Linked DNA regions of Homo sapiens: region 1 is linked to region 2. The links come from fine-mapping of genetic effects on gene expression. Tissue or cell type: esophagus muscle. Region 2 holds a variant in brackets; the other region holds the start of a gene. All regions are shown on one strand. Distances are from middle to middle.

Region 1 (8,099 bases), 180 kb after region 2:
AGCCCAGTCCCAGGAAGCCTCACGTCCAAATAGTCCTCAGCTCACTCCCACTGCTGTCCCTGGCAGTGCAGAAGTCCAGGGAATGGCTGGCCCAGCAGCTGAGATCACAGGTGAGGCACCATGGGAGCTTGTGACAGAGGCCCAAGAGGTAGTATCTCTGTGTTGTGGAACACCATGCTCAGAGTTGGAAGAGACTCTTCAGGTTGGGGATTGTCCTTTTCCTGACCACCTAGCCTTCCCTTGCTATGGTAATGAATGAGCCTTTTTTGTTTTTGTTTTTGAGACGGAGTCTCACTGTGTCCCCCAGGCTGGAGTGTGCAATGGCGCGATCTTGGCTCACTGCAACCTCTGCCTCCCAAGCTCAAGAAATTTTCCTGCCTTAGCCTCCTGAGTAGCTGGGATTACAGGCGCCCACCATGCGCAGCTAATTCTCGTACTTCTAATAGAGATGGGGTTTCACCATGTTGGCCAGGCTGGTTTCGAACTCCTGACCTCAAATGATCTGCCTGCCTCGGCCTCCTGTAGTGCTGGGATTACAGGCTTGAACCACCATGCCTGCCTGAATGGGCCCTTTTTAACAGGGAACCTCTGACTGTGGGAAGAGCCATTGCTGGTGGCAGTTTTCTCCCCCAGATCCACATCCACTGGTGTCTCAATTGCCCTGGTAGCCCGTCTTGAAGTATGGCCACAGCAGACATGTTGACCACGAGTCTTCTTCTGTAGGTCTTGTGTCCCTGTCTCCTGTGGTGACTAATTTCAGGTTACTTCCTCTGGGGGTGACTGGCAATGCCTAATTCTCCTTGGGTCTGGGAACCAGGCTTGTGGTCCTCCTGTGTCTGGGTTCCAGCACAGCCAGTTTCAACGACCTCTTCCTGACCTTGTATGACTGGGTTTGGGGGCTATCATTGTAGTGAGTGGCGGCCCTGGGACTGATAGCAAGGACAGTGGTGAGCTCAGTTCACTCCCACTGGGCCCAACAACACTGGACACCCGGCCACTGCAGTCTTCTGCCCTGCTGGACAGCAGCAGCAGCAGCAGCAGCAGCAGCAGCAGCAGCAGCAACAGTAACAGCAGCAGTTCGTCCGGACCCAACCCTTCTACCTCCTTTGAGCCCATCAAGGCAGACCCCACAGGTGGTGAGTACCTGCCCCCTGGGGGCAGAGAGAGAGAGTCTAGCCTCAGTCCAGTCCTAGGTCAGAAAACAGAATTGGGGATGGAACCCAGATCTCCTGTCAACCCTGCTGGACACGAGAGCTCTCTGCCAGCACCTCTGGGTCAGTGCTGGTGCCCCCTCTAGCACCCCATCCTAGGCTAACACAGAACTCCCTGCCGTCTCTCAAGCCCTTTCCTGCCACCCCTTGGAGCACCGCCTCACTAATTGACACTTCTCTGTATCACTCTCTCTCATCTTCTCTGTCTCCTTTCTGTCTGGACTCCTTGAAAAAGTAATCTCCATTCATTAGTCTCCTAGTCACCTTTCAGGTTGCAGCAGTCACCCCCCCAGCCCCAGTGTTACAGCGGTGTTACTCTTGAGAAGCTGCCGAAGGCCTGCCGAGCCCAGCAGCCTCCAGCGTGTTTTGCTGGTGCTCTCTTGGTCTGTGTCAATATTCTTTCCTCCTTTGGCATCATGATGCCAGCTTTTGGCTCTCCTATCTCACTGGCTTCTTGAACTCTTCCCTGGCGTGTCCTTAAACATTGCTGTTTTTGAGGGCTCTGTCCCATTCCACTCCTGGAGAGGGCTGCAGCTCTGGGTGAACGAATCCCCAGCCTCCGCCTGGCCTAGATCTTTTCCCAATCTGCACACTTCGGTGTCCACCTGCCGTCCTGTGTACATCCAATGGACACTTTATTCCTGCATGTCCTCAACTGAACTTAGTTTCCTCCCGAAGCTTGCTTTCCACCTCTGCGCACCCAGCCGTCAGCCCTAGTTATCCAGGCCTGACCCTTGGCTCTCACTCTAGTTCTAGTTCCTTATCCCTCCTCCTTCTGCTGCCCACCCCATGCCAGCTAACTGAGGTCTGTCCCAGATGTCCCCTCCTATCCTCTGGTATCCTCAGCACTCAGGATGACCCCTGGCCACCTCTGTCCTGGATTCTTCAGCATCTTTCTCTTTACCCTGACTGACAGACTAATCTTTCTGAAATGCAGGCCTGACAGAAAAATGTGGCATTTCTCTGTTTGCAAAAGTACCTTTAATGGCTCCTTGAGGGCCACCAGATAAGATCTGAACTCCTGAGCCTGGCATGTGAAATCCCTCATAGTCCTCTCTGGTTGCATTTTCTTCTGCTTCCCCTGTGTCCTCCTGGCCAGAGGTTTGTAGTGGAGTCATCACCCTGTAGCGCCACCACCTCTGCCTGGTGACCTGACCCAGGGTCTGGTCTCAGTCTTGCACAGAGCAGGTGCTCAGCAAGGGTGGGACAGATGGGGTACCTTCTGTCAGACAGGGGGTGCATGCTGAGCCCAGAAAGAGGCTTCTGTGGCCTTTCCGAGTTAGAAAAGCTGTACCAATCGCTTGCAGGGGGCCTTTGGTACCCTGGGCTCAGCACTGAGGAATTCAGGTTTAGCAAGTGAGGCCAACAGACAGTGCCAGCTTGGCCTAGGCAGGACCTACATCTCCTTAGCTGTGTGGAGCCTCAGGGTGGGTGGTATAGGATCCGAGGAAGCCAGGGGGCTGTAGTGGGGCCAGGCTGGACCTCTGTGCCCTGAGCATGGCTTTCTTGTTTTTCAGTTTTGGAACTCCCCAAAGAGCTGTCAGAAATCTTTGATCCCACACGAGGTAGGCTGCTGCATTCCTCCCTGAGGCTAGGGGTAAGGGACACAGCTCATTGGGTCCTATGGCTGTTTTCTTGCCCTTTTGAGGACCTTGTTGTGGCGCTTATGGTAACTGGGGCAAAGGGTGAAGTTCCTGATGGGCAGGTGGGGTTCCCTTTCCTGGGCTTTGGTGGGTGGAGAGGTGGGAGCTGGAATGTTAGTAACTGAGCTCCCTCCATTCCCAGAGTGCATGAGCTCGGAGCTGCTGGAGGAGTTGATGTCCTCAGAAGGTGGGTGGCCCTGGAAGGTGGGAGTGGGTGTGGGCAGGGGTTGGGCTGCTGCTAGGGGAGCCCTGGCCCAGGGCCTGAGACTAGTGCTCTCTGCAGTGTTTGCCCCTCTGCTTCGTCTTTCTCCACCCCCGGGAGACCACGATTATATCTACAACCTGGACGAGAGTGAAGGTGTCTGTGACCTCTTTGATGTGCCTGTTCTCAACCTCTGACTGACAGGGACATGCCCTGTGTGGCTGGGACCCAGACTGTCTGACCTGGGGGTTGCCTGGGGACCTCTCCCACCCGACCCCTACAGAGCTTGAGAGCCACAGACGCCTGGCTTCTCCGGCCTCCCCTCACCGCACAGTTCTGGCCACAGCTCCCGCTCCTGTGCTGGCACTTCTGTGCTCGCAGAGCAGGGGAACAGGACTCAGCCCCCATCACCGTGGAGCCAAAGTGTTTGCTTCTCCCTTTCTGCGGCCTTCGCCAGCCCAGGCTCGGCTGCCACCCAGTGGCACAGAACCGAGGAGCTGCCATTACCCCCCATAGGGGGCAGTGTCTTGTTCCTGCCAGCCTCAGTGTCTTGCTTCTGCCAGCTCCTTCCCCTAGGAGGGAAGGGTGGGGTGGAACTGGGCACATGCCAGCACCACTTCTAGCTTCCTTCGCTATCCCCCACCCCCTGACCCTCCAGCTCCTCCTGGCCCTCTCACGTGCCCACTTCTGCTGGGCCTTTAGCCCTAGAACCTGCAGGTGGTGGGGGCGGCTACCAAGAAGGAACAGAGGTCTCTGGGGAGGAGTCTGGGTGGTCCAGCCCTGATGATTGGCCCCACCTCCTGCTGCCCCATAACCCTCTCTTCATTTCGGCTTTTTCATTTACCCTCATTTAGAGCCATTTGCAGAGATTTAGAAAGATTTACAGTAACGAATGGATTCCTATATAAAGATTATTTTTATACTTTTTGCAGCAAAAGGAAATTGTAATATTTGTACAGTGTTCAAGTGAATAAAAACCATGCCTAAGGCTAGCTCTGATGTGGTTCTTTGGGGACCCTCCTTGGGACTGTGCTGGACTGGCAGTGTGATTGGGTGGGTCACCTTGCTGGAACTAGGGGTGGGGCGGCCTCCGGCAGCCTGCCCTCCCCGCCCCCACCTGCCGCACCTTGGTGTGGGGCGGGGCCGCCTCGGCGGGGCGGGGCAGGCGGAGCCGTCCTACCTTCCTACCCCCAGACTCCAACCCGGAACTAACCTCGGCTCCCTTGGGAAGGCCGCGTTGCATGGCCAGGAGCAGCAGTCTGGGCCGCGAGTGCGGGACACCGAGGTCAGGTCTCGGAAAGGGAGGACCTCCTCGTCCCCAGGGGCCCCAGGCCAGGTGCACCCTTGGCCGCAGGTGCACGGTCTCCGGAAAGTGCAGGCGCCCACGTCCCAGCTGGACCATGGCGCCTCCGCGGAACGTGGTGAAGATTGCCATCAAGATGCGTGACGCCATCCCGCAGCTCATCCAGCTGGACCAGGTCACCCGGCTGGTCCCGCCTCCATCTGCCCCACTGCCCCACCTCCCGGTAGCCCCCTGGCCCTCGGGGCAGCCCGCCCCACCCCTCCCCCCAGGCTCCTCCCCATCCCTCCCTGCCCAGGCCGCGAGAATGACCACTCCACTTGCAGGCGAAGCCCCTGGCCGCTGTGCTGAAGGAGGTGTGCGACGCGTGAGTGCTGCCGGGCCAGGGCCTGCGGAGGGCGGGAGGGCAGGAGGGGCGGCGCCCCCTGCCGGCCTCGCTGAGCCTCGTGCCCCTCAGGTGGAGCCTGACGCACTCTGAGCGTTACGCCCTGCAGTTTGCGGATGGGCACCGGAGATACATCACCGAGAATGTGAGTCCCCTCTCCCCAGCCCCAAGCTCGGCCTTCCGACCCCTCTAACCCACCTGGCCCCGATAACTCTGGCTCTTCATCCCACTACCGGAGCGCGATCTGTTATTCACCCCCAGCCGCCCTCACCGACACCCCAGTTGATCAGTCCTCGGAGCCCTCCCTGACCTCGCTGCCTTTTCTGCTGTCTTCTCCAGAACCGCGCGGAGATCAAGAATGGCAGCATCCTGTGCCTCAGCACGGCCCCAGTAATGCCCCTCCCGTCCCGCCTTCCCCATCCCTGCCCCTTTGCTCCAGGTCCAGAGGCCCCCCGCCCCGGAGGCCCCCGCCCCAGCCCTGCCTTGCGCCACCTAGTTGACGCCCGGGGCCGCACACTTCCAGGTCCCACCCTTACCATGCCCAGCCTCTTCACCTCTGCTCCTGCTCCGTTCCTGCCAGGACCTTGAGGCTGAGCAGCTCTTGGGTGGGCTGCAGAGTAACAGTCCTGAAGGGCGCCGGGAAGCCCTGAGGCGCCTTGTTCCGCTGGCCTCGGACATGATCTTTGCCAGGGAGGTCATCAGCCGTAATGGGCTCCAGATACTAGGCACCATCATTGAAGATGGGGACGAGTGAGCACAGGGATGTGTGGGCTGGGGGAGATGGTGGGTCTTTCTGGTCCTGGGGTGGTCCTGCTCAGCCCCAGATGTCCCCCCTCCAGCCTAGGAGAGGTGCTGGCCCTCAGCCTGAGGGCCTTCTCAGAGCTCATGGAGCACGGCGTGGTGTCCTGGGAGACTCTGAGCATCCCCTTTGTGAGGAAGGTGGGTGGGCTTTCCTAGGGCAGCGGGTGGGGGCAGTGGAGCAGTGGGGCAGTGGTAGACCCGGTCTTCCATGGGGGTGAGGTGGTGACACCCCCGCCCCTTACAGGTGGTGTGCTACGTGAACATGAACCTCATGGATGCCTCCGTGCCTCCCCTGGCCCTTGGGCTGCTGGAGAGTGTGACCTTGAGCAGCCCAGCCCTGGGCCAGCTGGTCAAGAGCGAGGTGCCCCTGGATAGGCTGCTGGTGCACCTACAGGTGTAAGCCTCTGGGGCTGGGGTCCAGATGCAGGGAGCAGGGCTGGAGCCTGAATGTTCCACTGAGCCCTCTTCTTGCCATAGGATGAACCAGCAGCTGCAAACCAAGGCCATGGCCCTGCTGACAGCCTTGCTGCAGGGGGCCAGCCCTGTGGAACGCAAGGTGAGTGTCGATCGGTGGCTAGATGGGGGCAGCACCCGGTGGGCGCTGCCCCACCCTGAAGCAAAATCCTCTAAGCCCCCCTTTTTTTTTTTTTTGAGATGGAGTCTTGCTCTGTCGCCCAGGCTGGAGTGCAGTGGTGCGATCTTGGCTCACTGCAAGCTCTGCCTCCCGGGTTCACACCATTCTCCTGCCTCAGCCTCCCGAGTAGCTGGGACTACAGGCTCCCGCCACCACGCCCAGCTGATTTTTTTTTTTTTTTTTTTTTTTTTAAGTAGAGACGGGGTTTCACTGTGTTAGCCAGGTTGGCCTCCATCTCCTGACCTCGTGATCCGCCCGCCTTGGCCTCCCAAAGTGCTGGGATTACAGGCGTGAGCCACCGCGCCCAGCCTAAGCCCCCTTTCTTTCTACCCCCTCAGCACATGCTTGACTATCTTTGGCAGAGGAACCTTCGCCAGTTCATCTATAAGGTAGGAAGTGGTGGGCCAGGGGGACCTCTCTGCCCCTCCCTCCCCGTGAGCCCTCGCTTACACCAGGGACTGGCTGTCCTGCAGAACATCATCCACAGTGCAGCACCAATGGGCGACGAGATGGCTCATCACCTGTACGTACTGCAGGCTCTCATGCTGGGGCTGCTGGAGCCGCGCATGCGGACGCCCCTGGACCCCTACAGCCAGGTGTGTGTCTTTGGTGAGGACAAGGCAGGGGGTGGCTTAGAGCTTGGCCTTGAATCTATAATCTTGATCCCCTCCCCCGCCACCCAACACTGACCCCAGGAGCAGCGGGAGCAGCTGCAGGTCCTACGCCAGGCTGCCTTCGAGGTGGAGGGGGAGTCCTCGGGTGCCGGGCTAAGTGCTGACCGTCGCCGTTCCCTCTGTGCCCGAGAGTTCCGCAAACTGGGCTTTTCTGTGAGTATCACCCCTACCCAACTCCCCACCCCTGCCTCAGCCCAGGGCTGTTGTTCCAGGCGGCCGTGGCCCTTCTTGAACTGCCTGTGCCCACTTCCCCCAGAACAGCAACCCAGCACAGGACCTGGAGCGCGTGCCCCCCGGTCTGCTGGCCCTGGACAACATGTTGTACTTCTCCAGAAACGCGCCCAGCGCGTACAGCCGGGTCGGTGACAGGGTAGGGTGGGGGGGTGGCAGCATCCCCCAGGCAGGGTCCCCATGGGCTTAGCTGTGACTCCTTGCCCCATTCTCTGCGCCCCCAGTTTGTGTTGGAGAACAGCAGCCGCGAGGACAAGCACGAGTGCCCCTTTGCCCGGGGCAGCATCCAGCTGACGGTGCTGCTGTGTGAGCTGCTCCGTGTTGGGGAGCCCTGTGAGTGGCCTGGACTGGGCACAGCATGGCCAAGAGCAGGGGACGGAAGGGCAGAGAGGGCCAGGGGCTGTATGCACTTTCTCCCTGAGCCCCTCCTGCCCCCCCACTCCAGGCTCTGAGACAGCCCAGGACTTCTCACCCATGTTCTTCGGCCAAGACCAGAGCTTCCACGAGCTCTTCTGTGTGGGCATCCAGCTGTTGAATAAGACCTGGAAGGAGATGCGGGCTACACAGGAGGACTTCGACAAGGTGGGTGGGGTGGGAGCTGGGAGGCCTGGGCCAGGGCAGGGGGCTGATCTGGGTACAGAGCTTAGGCCCTGAGCTGAGCTTGGGCGGCCCCAGGTCATGCAGGTGGTGCGGGAGCAGCTGGCCCGCACTCTGGCCCTGAAGCCCACTTCCCTGGAGCTCTTCCGAACCAAGGTGAATGCGCTCACTTATGGGGAGGTGCTGCGGCTGCGGCAGACTGAACGGCTGCACCAGGAGGGCACACTGGCTCCCCCTATACTGTGAGTCTGGGGGGATGGATCCTCAGTCCTAGCCCTACCTTCCTTGGTGCCCCCTGGGCTACTCCCCAGGTCAGATGTGCTCAGTGACACCCCTCTATCAGGGAGCTGCGGGAGAAGCTGAAGCCAGAGCTCATGGGCCTGATCCGCCAGCAGCGCTTGCTCCGCCTCTGTGAGGGGAC
Region 2 (8,099 bases):
TTTTTTTTTTTTTTTTTTGAGACGGAATCTTGCTCTGTCGCCCAGGCTGGAGTGCGGTGGAACGATCTCGGCTCACTGCAGCCTCCACCTCCCAGGTTTAAGCTATTCTCGTGCCTCAGCCTCCCAAGTAGCTGGGATTACAGGCATAAGCCACCACACCCAGCTGATTTTTGTATTTTTAGTAGAGATGGGGTCTCGCCATGTTGGCCAGGTTGGTCTAGAACTCCTGACCTCAGATGACCCACCTGCCTTGGCCTCCGAAAGTGCTGGGCTTACAGGTGTGAGCCACTGCACCTGGTTTCAGGCACCCTTTCAGCTCATTGTATGGCATTTTGGCTAGACCTTATGTGAACTCAAATTGTTATCCTGTGCTTCCCTTACTGGCAACGTTTACAGATGGCTTTGTATCAACCAAAGCGTTGTACAACTCATAGCATTTCAGAGCTAGAAGGGACCATAAACAGTGTCATAGCCACCGTTCTTTGAACACTTACAACTTTGTGCTAGACACTAACCCAGGTACCTTCTGATGTTTTTGCCTGCACGGTACAGCCATTCCTTTTCCCGTGACACCACCCTGTCCTCGGCAATTCACCGTGTCCACACCACAGCTCAGGGATGACCAGATAACCCAGACTTGGACTATTAAGCTCAATCTCAAGATTTTTGTAGAAACATCAGGAAAGAGAATGGGTACCACTTGAGGGTGAGTCAGCATGTGAAGGAAGGTAAAACGGAAAACTAGCCAGGTACAGTGGCATGTGCCTGCAGTCCCAGCTACTCGGGAGGCTGAGACGGGAGGATTGCTTGAGCCCAGGAGTTCTGGGCTGTAATTCACTATGTTGATTAGGTGTCTGCACTAAGTGTGGCATCGATATGGTGATCTCCTAGGAACGAGGGACCACCAGGTAGCCTAAGGAGGGGTGAACCAGCCCAGGTCGAAAATGGAGCAGGTCAAAACTCCTGTGCTAATCAGTAGTGGGATCGTGCCTGTGAGTAGCTGTTGCACTCCAGCCTGGGCAATATAGCAAGACCTCATCTCCAAAAAAAAAAAAAAAAAAAGGAATAGTGAAATGAAATAGTTCACACTGAGAAACAGCCTTGAACGAATAAAATAAAATAAAATAGGCTGGGCGCTGTGGCTCACACCTGTAATCCCAGCACTTTGGGAGGCCGAGGAAGGCGGATCACTTGAGGCCAGGAGTTCAAGACCAACCTGAGCAGCAATATAGCAAGACACCCCCACCTCTAAAGAAAAAAAAAATTAAAGAGTTAAGTGACTGCATTTCTTCAACTGCAGGACTTCTCTGGGATCTCTCTCTCTCTGAGTCTACCTGGCTATATGCCCTTGAATGAGTCCAGTCACCTGTTCTGAGTCTCAATTTCAAGAGCTACAAAATAAGACAGTAATTATTTCCCTCTTTATCCTTTATTTATTTATTTAATTTTTTATTTTTTATTTTTTGAGATGGAGTCTTGCTCTGTCGCCCAGGCTGGAGTGCAGTGGCACAATCTCGGCTCACTGCAAGCTCCGCCTCCCGGGTTCACGCCATTCTCCTGCCTCAGCCTCCCGAGTAGCTGTGACTACAGGCACCCGCCACTACGCCTGGCTAATTTTTGTATTGTTAGTAGAGACGGGGTTTCACTGTGTTAGCCAGGATGGTCTCCATCTCCTGACCTCGTGATCCACCCGCCTTGGCCTCCCAAAGTGCTGGGATTACAGGCGTGAGCCACCGCGCCCGGCATTTTTTTTTTTTTTTTTTTTTGAGATGGTGTCTCGCTGTGTCACCCAGGCTGGAGTGCAGTGGCACGATCTTGGCTCACTGCAACCTCTGCCTCCTGGGGTCAAGCGATTCTACCGCCTCAGCCTCCAGAGTAGCTGGGACTACAGGCATGTGCCACGCCCAGCTATTTTTTTGTATTTTTAGTAGAGACAGGGTTTCACCGTGTTAGCCAGGATGGTCTCAATCTCCTGACCTCGTGATCCCCCCACCTCGGCCTCCCAAAGTGTTGGGATTACAGATGTGAGTCACCATGCCCGGCCTTCCCTCTTTATCTTGAAGAAATTAAGGAGAGGCCAGCGAGAGAGTGTTTGGAAAATTGCTTTATGCAGTGGCTTGTGCCTGTAACCCCAGCACTTTCGGAGGCCAAGGTGGTAAGATTACTTGTGCCCAGAAGTTCGAGACCAGCCTGAGCAACATAACAAGACCCCGTCTCTGGAAGAAAGGAAGGAAGGAAGGAAGGAAGGAAGCAAGCAAGCAAGCATGGATTAGCCAGGTGGAGTGGTGTGTGCCTGTGGTCTCAGCTATTGTGAGACTGAGGCAGGAGGATCACTTGAGCCCAGGAGTTTGAGGCTGCAGCGAGCAATGATGCCACCACTGCACCCCAGCCTGGCTAACAGAATGTGACTCTATATTGAAAAAAGAAAAAGTAACAATTAGCCAGACGTGGTGGTGTGCACTTGTAGTCCCAACTACTCAGGAGGCTGAGATGAGGATCGCCTGAGCCCAGGAGTTGGAAACTGCAATCAGCTAGGATCATGCCACTGCACTTGACTCAGGAAGACCCTGTCAAAAAAAAAAAAAAAGAAGAAAAAGAAAAGAAAGAAAGAAGAGAGAGAGAGAGAAAGAGGAAGAAAGAAAGAAAGAGAGAAAGAAATTCACTGAAGGGAAACCTGGGTTGTTCATCTTTGTGTCCATCTCCGTCACCAACACTACCTAAACTGCAAAGCATGCTGGGAGCTCCCACTGGGCAGGAGGGAGCAAGATGAAGTTAGCATAAGCCGGGACTAGGGAAGCTATCAAGCCTGTGGGATGCCTTTGAGGTAGTTGAGTCCAGTCTTGTCTCATAGGCATTGGTGAGGGCACGCTGAGGGGCAATCATTCTGCCCAGCATAGTTTAGAAAGCCTTGTCAGAGGCCTCTGAATTACATTTTTTTTTTTTTTTTTTTTCTGAGACAGTGTCTCACTCCATTGCCCAGGCTGGAATGCAGTGGCACGATCTCAGCTCACTGCAACCTCCACCTCCCAGGTTCAAGTGATTCTCCTGCCTTAGCCTCCCAAGTAGCTGGGATTACAGGCATGTGCCACCACCCCCAGCTAATTTTTGTATTTTTAGTAGAGACAGGGTTTCACCATGTTCGCCAGGCTGGTCTCAAACTCCCGACCTCGGGTGATCTGCCCGCCTTGTCCTCCCAAAGTACTGAGATTACAGGTGTGAGCCACTGCCCCGGCTCGAACTACTCTTTTTTTTTTTTTTTTTTTTAAAGGCGCTTCACTCTTGTTGCCAAGGCTGGAGTGCAATGGCGCGATCTCAGCTCACTGCAACCTCCGCCTCCCGGGTTCAAGTGATTCTCCTGCCTCAGCCTCCCGAGTAGCTGGGATTAGAGGCATGCGCCACCACACCCGGCTAATTTTGTGTTTTTAGTAGAGACAGGGTGTCTCCATGTTGGTCAGGCTGGTCTCGAACTCCCAACCTCAGGTAATCTGCCCGCCTCGGCCTCCCAAAGTGCTAGGATTACAGGCATGTGCCACCGCGTGTGGAATTATTATTATTATTATTATTTTTAGACAGGGTCTGACTCTGTTGCCTAGGCTGAAGAGCTGCAGTGGCACAATCTCAGCTCACTGCAGCCTCGACCTCCCCACCTCAGATGATCCTTCCACCTCAGCCTCCTGGGTAGCTGGGACTACAGGCTTGCACCACCATACCCAGC[T/G]AATTTTTTGTATCTTTTTGTAGAGATGGGGTTTCATCATGCTGCCCAAACTGGCCTCGAGCTCCTGGGCTCAAGCCATTCACCTGTCTTGGCCTCCCAAAGTGCTGGGCTTACAGGCATGAGCCACTGAGCCTGGCCTCTCTAAACTACACTTAATGAAGAGTGTGAATTGGTCTGGCCAAGAAAGGGGAGAAAGACAAGCTAGACAGAGGGAAGTTAGCCAGGCCTGGAGCAGACCAAAGCTGAATTCCTTGCCTATTTACTCAGTAGTGTCATCTCAAGGAAAAGAACGATTGTCTGCTTTCTAAATTGCCCTTTTTGTGTTCCTGGAGGGGAGGCAGGCTGGTGAGGTGTCCGTGGGCTAGTAATTATTTCTGCTTATTTACAAGGTAATATTACAGCATGATGAGAAAGCCTGCCTGTTTTGATGGTTCCAAGCTTGGAAAGTTTGGGAAAGAATCCAAGAACATGGCAGGTTATCAAGGCGTTATCAGCTGGGACACAAAAGGAGAGAAGGTAAAAGAGGCATTTGGATTCCAGAGTCAATAATGAGCCAGAAGTGAGTGTTGAATTATTCAACCTCCTGTATTGATCCATTGATCTCTATCTGCAGCTCTTGGTTTATTCTTGGTTGGCATTTCCTGTGTCTCAGACACTGATAAGAGAAATGGAAGGAGGAGGAGGAACAGATTCTTAAGACTCAAGAAAAGAGAAGAGGTGATGTCAAAGAGAAATTTGGCAACATACATCAGGAATCTTAAAATGTCCATATCTTTTGACCTAGTGGTTCTACTTTTGGAAATTGATCCTAAAAATACTATCCAGAACTTTTTTTTTTTTTTTTTTTTTGAGGCAGAGTCTCACTCTGTTGCTTGCCCAGGCTGGAGTGCAGTGGCGCGATCTTGGCTCACTGCAAGCTCCGCCTCCCGGGTTCACGCCATTCTCCTGCCTCAGCCTCCTGAGTAGCTGGGACTACAGGCGCCTGCCACTATGCCCGGCTAATTTTTTGCATTTTTAGTAGAGGCAGGGTTTCACTGTGTTAGCCAGGATGGTCTCCATCTCCTGACCTCATGATCCGCCCACCTCGGGCTCCCAAAGTGCTGGGATTACAGGCGTGAGCCACTGCACCCGGCCTGTATGTCCTAAATGTTCTACAAAAAAAGTACAAGTTTTAAATAACTTTAAAAAGTTTTAAGGGTGAGGGGAGAGACCCTCATATGAAGGCTTCACAGTAAAGTAAACAAATTAGTGTAGAACTAAATCCTCCTAGAATCCAGGGGACTGCTATGTCCCAGGTGGGCTGACCATCTCCTTGGCCATAGCATGGAGCCAAATGAATAAATGGATGCTGTGGGGCAGTCATTCCATGGAGGACAATCAGAGGCCGGTGAACATATTTAAAGAAGAAGTACAGCCTGGACAACATAGTGAGACCCCATCTCTAAAAAAAAATTTTTTTTTATTAATTACCCAAGCATGGTGGCACCTGTAGTCCCAGCTACTTGCTACTTGCTACTCAGGAGGCTGAGGTGGGAGGATTGCTTGACCCCAGGAGGTCAAGGCTGCAGTAAGCCATGATTGCACCACTGCACTCCAGCCTGGGTGAAACAGGAAGACCCTGCCCCAAAAGAGAAAGAAAGAAGAAAGATGAGTTTTCCCAACAGAGAAACAGGAGGAAGTCATGGTATGGGCACGTAGGGAATGGAAACAGGCCAGTATGGCTGGATTGCAGGGTGCCATGGGGAGAAACGATGGGAGATAGTGTTGGAAAGTAGGGATTGTCAGGGGGTCATAAATGCTAGGCTGAGGGCCTTTGTCTTTCTGCCCCAAGTTTCTTCAATCTTGGGGGAGGGGTCTTAAGCAAAAGGGTGGTGTGGTTAGAGCTCATCCCAGCTCTCATCACATTATATTATTATTATTACTACCATTATTATTGTTATTACCATTATTTTTATTCCCTAGCCCCTTAGTCTAGTCTGTTTCCCATCACTTGTCAGAAACTAGGAGAGCAGGGGAGGGGAAGGGGAGCAGTCCAAGGCAGCCCTCTAAGATCATCAGCCAGGCTTCCTGACCCCAGCTTGGCCCTCTTCCCACCACAGTAGGCTCAGTCCTGCCATCCCCAGGCACCCAGACAAACTCCTCCACCCCCAACCCCCATGACAAAGAGGCTCATTTGGAGCCCGGGCAAGATTTGCAAACGTCAAACTTATAATTACAAGGATGAAATCATCTGGTTCCTTTTAAGCAAACGGGTTTATTGATCCCAACACTAAAGAAATGCTATTCTGGGGAAACTTGCTCCTCTCTGCTTTCCTTTCCCTATGGGATGGCTGAGCTGGGGGAGGGTGGCTAGAGGGCTCAGAAGGGGGAGATGCCCCTGGGAGGGAGGGGAGATTCTCTGGGCCCAAGGGTGGATTTTACGGTATATAAATTATATCTCAAAAAGAAAAAAATTCTTTAGGGCCCAGGAAACTGCCACACTTGGGCAGATGACACCCTCATCCTGAATTAAGGCCCATTGCCTTCTAAAAACTAGAAGCTGAGTGGAGCCAGGGTTTTAGGCAATGTGCCAGCCACTAATTTTCCTTGTCTCCCACTCCTCTCAAGTCTCATTTGTGGCTCCAGATCCTATTTCAGCTTCAAGATGGTACAATATTTTCTCAGTAACTGAAGGGAAACTATTTCCTTAGAAAAAATGCATCAGAGGCTCAGAGACTTCCTCTGTGAGGAGAGGCAAAGGTGGGTGGCTGCTGACACCAGACCTGGATAAAACCATCCTTTCTGCTGGGCCTGCAGAGGCAGGACATCTAGACTTTGACCTTCCAAGCCAAGAAGGGACAAACAGGCTCAGAGATAGGAATGCACAGTCCTCAAGGGCAGACCCACATCCTGCCACAAGGCCCAAAATAGAACCCCTTTCTTCAACCTGTGGGGACCCTTCTAGAACATGGTGGGGTGCTCCCAGAGGAATAACCCCAGACATAGCCTTCTATGAGTTTGCAGTTCAGTGAGGGCAGCAGGCAGGACTTTTGGTATCTCCACTAGGTCTCAGAGTAGAATGATTAAAATCACCACCCTGGGGTCACTTAACCCCTGTGAATCTCCGTTGGCCCATCTGTAGAATAGGATCAATAATACTAAACTTACAGGGTTGTGGTGAGGAAGGAATGAAGATGATGTATCCCAATGCTTAGCTAGTTTCTTTAGAGTCGGGGGAGGGTCTCACTCTGTTGCCTAGGATGGCCTCAAACTCCTGGCCTCAAGTGATCCTCCCACTTCCACTTCCCAAACTACTGAGATTACAGGTGTGCACCACCATGCCCAGCCCCCATTTTGTTATTTCAAATGGATCAGGGTCTCGTCACTGTCCTTTTTTACTTTTACTTTTTTTTTTTTTTTTTTGAGGCAGAGTCTTGCTCTGTCACCCAGGCTGGAGTGCAGTGGTGCAATCTCGGCTCACTGAAACCTCTGCCTCCCGGGTTCAAGTGATTCTCCTGTCTCAGCCTCCAGAGTGGCTGGGATTACAGGCACACGCTGCCACGCACAGCTAATTTTTTGTATTTCCGTGGAGACCGGGTTTCACTGTGTTGCCCAGGCTGGTCTCGAGCTCCTGAGCTCAGGCAATCCACCCGCCTCAGCCTCCCAAAGTGCTAGGATTACAGACGTGAACCATCGCTCCTGGCCTTATTTACTTTTTCAAAGTCTGTTTCCTCATCTCTCAGGAGACAGAAGACCTGACTTAGAAGATGGTTGTGTGGGCCGGGCGCGGTGGCTCACGCCTGTAATCCCAGCACTTTGGGAGGCCAAGGCGGGCAGATTGCCTGAGGTTGGGAGTTCGAGACTAGCCTGCCCTTCTCTACTAAAAATACAAAAATTAGCTGGGCGTGGTGGCAGGCGCCTGTAATCCCAGCTACTCAGGAAGCTGAGGCAGGAGAATCGGTTAAACCCGGGAGGCAGAGGTTGCAGTGAGCCGAGATTGCACCATTGCACTCCAGCCTGGGCAACAGAGTGAGACTCCGTCTCAAAAAAAAAAAAGAAAGTGGTTGTGTGAATTAACTGTGATAAGGTGCATGAAGGCACCCTGAACAGAGCTTCACAGTTGCACTAGGCAAGTGAGGGTTCCTGCGCTCTCCTCAGCTTCATTGTGTATTATCTACTTACCCACCCAAGATCAGCTTTAGGAGCCTGCAGGAGCAGCCACCCACCTAGGAAGTTAGGGAGATACTCAAGAGGAGGCCCTTGGTTGGCTTGAATCCTTACGAAAGGAAGATTCCAGATGACCGGACTTCAGATAATTCAGTCAGGTTTTGGGACGGTGGGGGCAGATGTTTCTTGGCACAGAAAAGACACCTCTAAGCCTCCATGAGTGGGCCTTAGTAGAGCT

The links. PIP is the estimated chance that this variant, and not a neighbour inherited with it, causes the effect.
Region 1: it holds the start of ELMO3, and the variant in region 2 is fine-mapped to the expression of ELMO3 in esophagus muscle (GTEx, PIP above 0.99).

The regions. Positions count from the first base shown.
Region 1 is chr16:67,194,871-67,202,969 of GRCh38, forward strand. It overlaps ELMO3 (engulfment and cell motility 3), which reads left to right and starts at 4,261. Exons shown (of 20, transcript NM_024712.5): 1 at 4,261-4,534; 2 at 4,683-4,723; 3 at 4,814-4,886; 4 at 5,081-5,131; 5 at 5,322-5,491; 6 at 5,581-5,680; 7 at 5,787-5,938; 8 at 6,020-6,098; 9 at 6,515-6,565; 10 at 6,650-6,772; 11 at 6,872-7,003; 12 at 7,107-7,208; 13 at 7,306-7,414; 14 at 7,527-7,663; 2 more. The coding sequence starts at 4,457. It overlaps E2F4 (E2F transcription factor 4), which reads left to right. Exons shown (of 10, transcript NM_001950.4): 6 at 1-110; 7 at 912-1,136; 8 at 2,729-2,776; 9 at 2,997-3,041; 10 at 3,138-4,048. The coding sequence ends at 3,253. It overlaps MIR328 (microRNA 328), which reads right to left and starts at 7,525; the gene lies at 7,451-7,525. RefSeq lists a silencer at 3,597-3,656.
Region 2 is chr16:67,018,775-67,026,873 of GRCh38, forward strand. It overlaps the pseudogene RN7SL543P. Among named protein-coding and RNA genes, the nearest start is that of CBFB, 6.3 kb to the right of the region's middle. The variant T/G (reference allele first, on the strand shown) is at 3,716.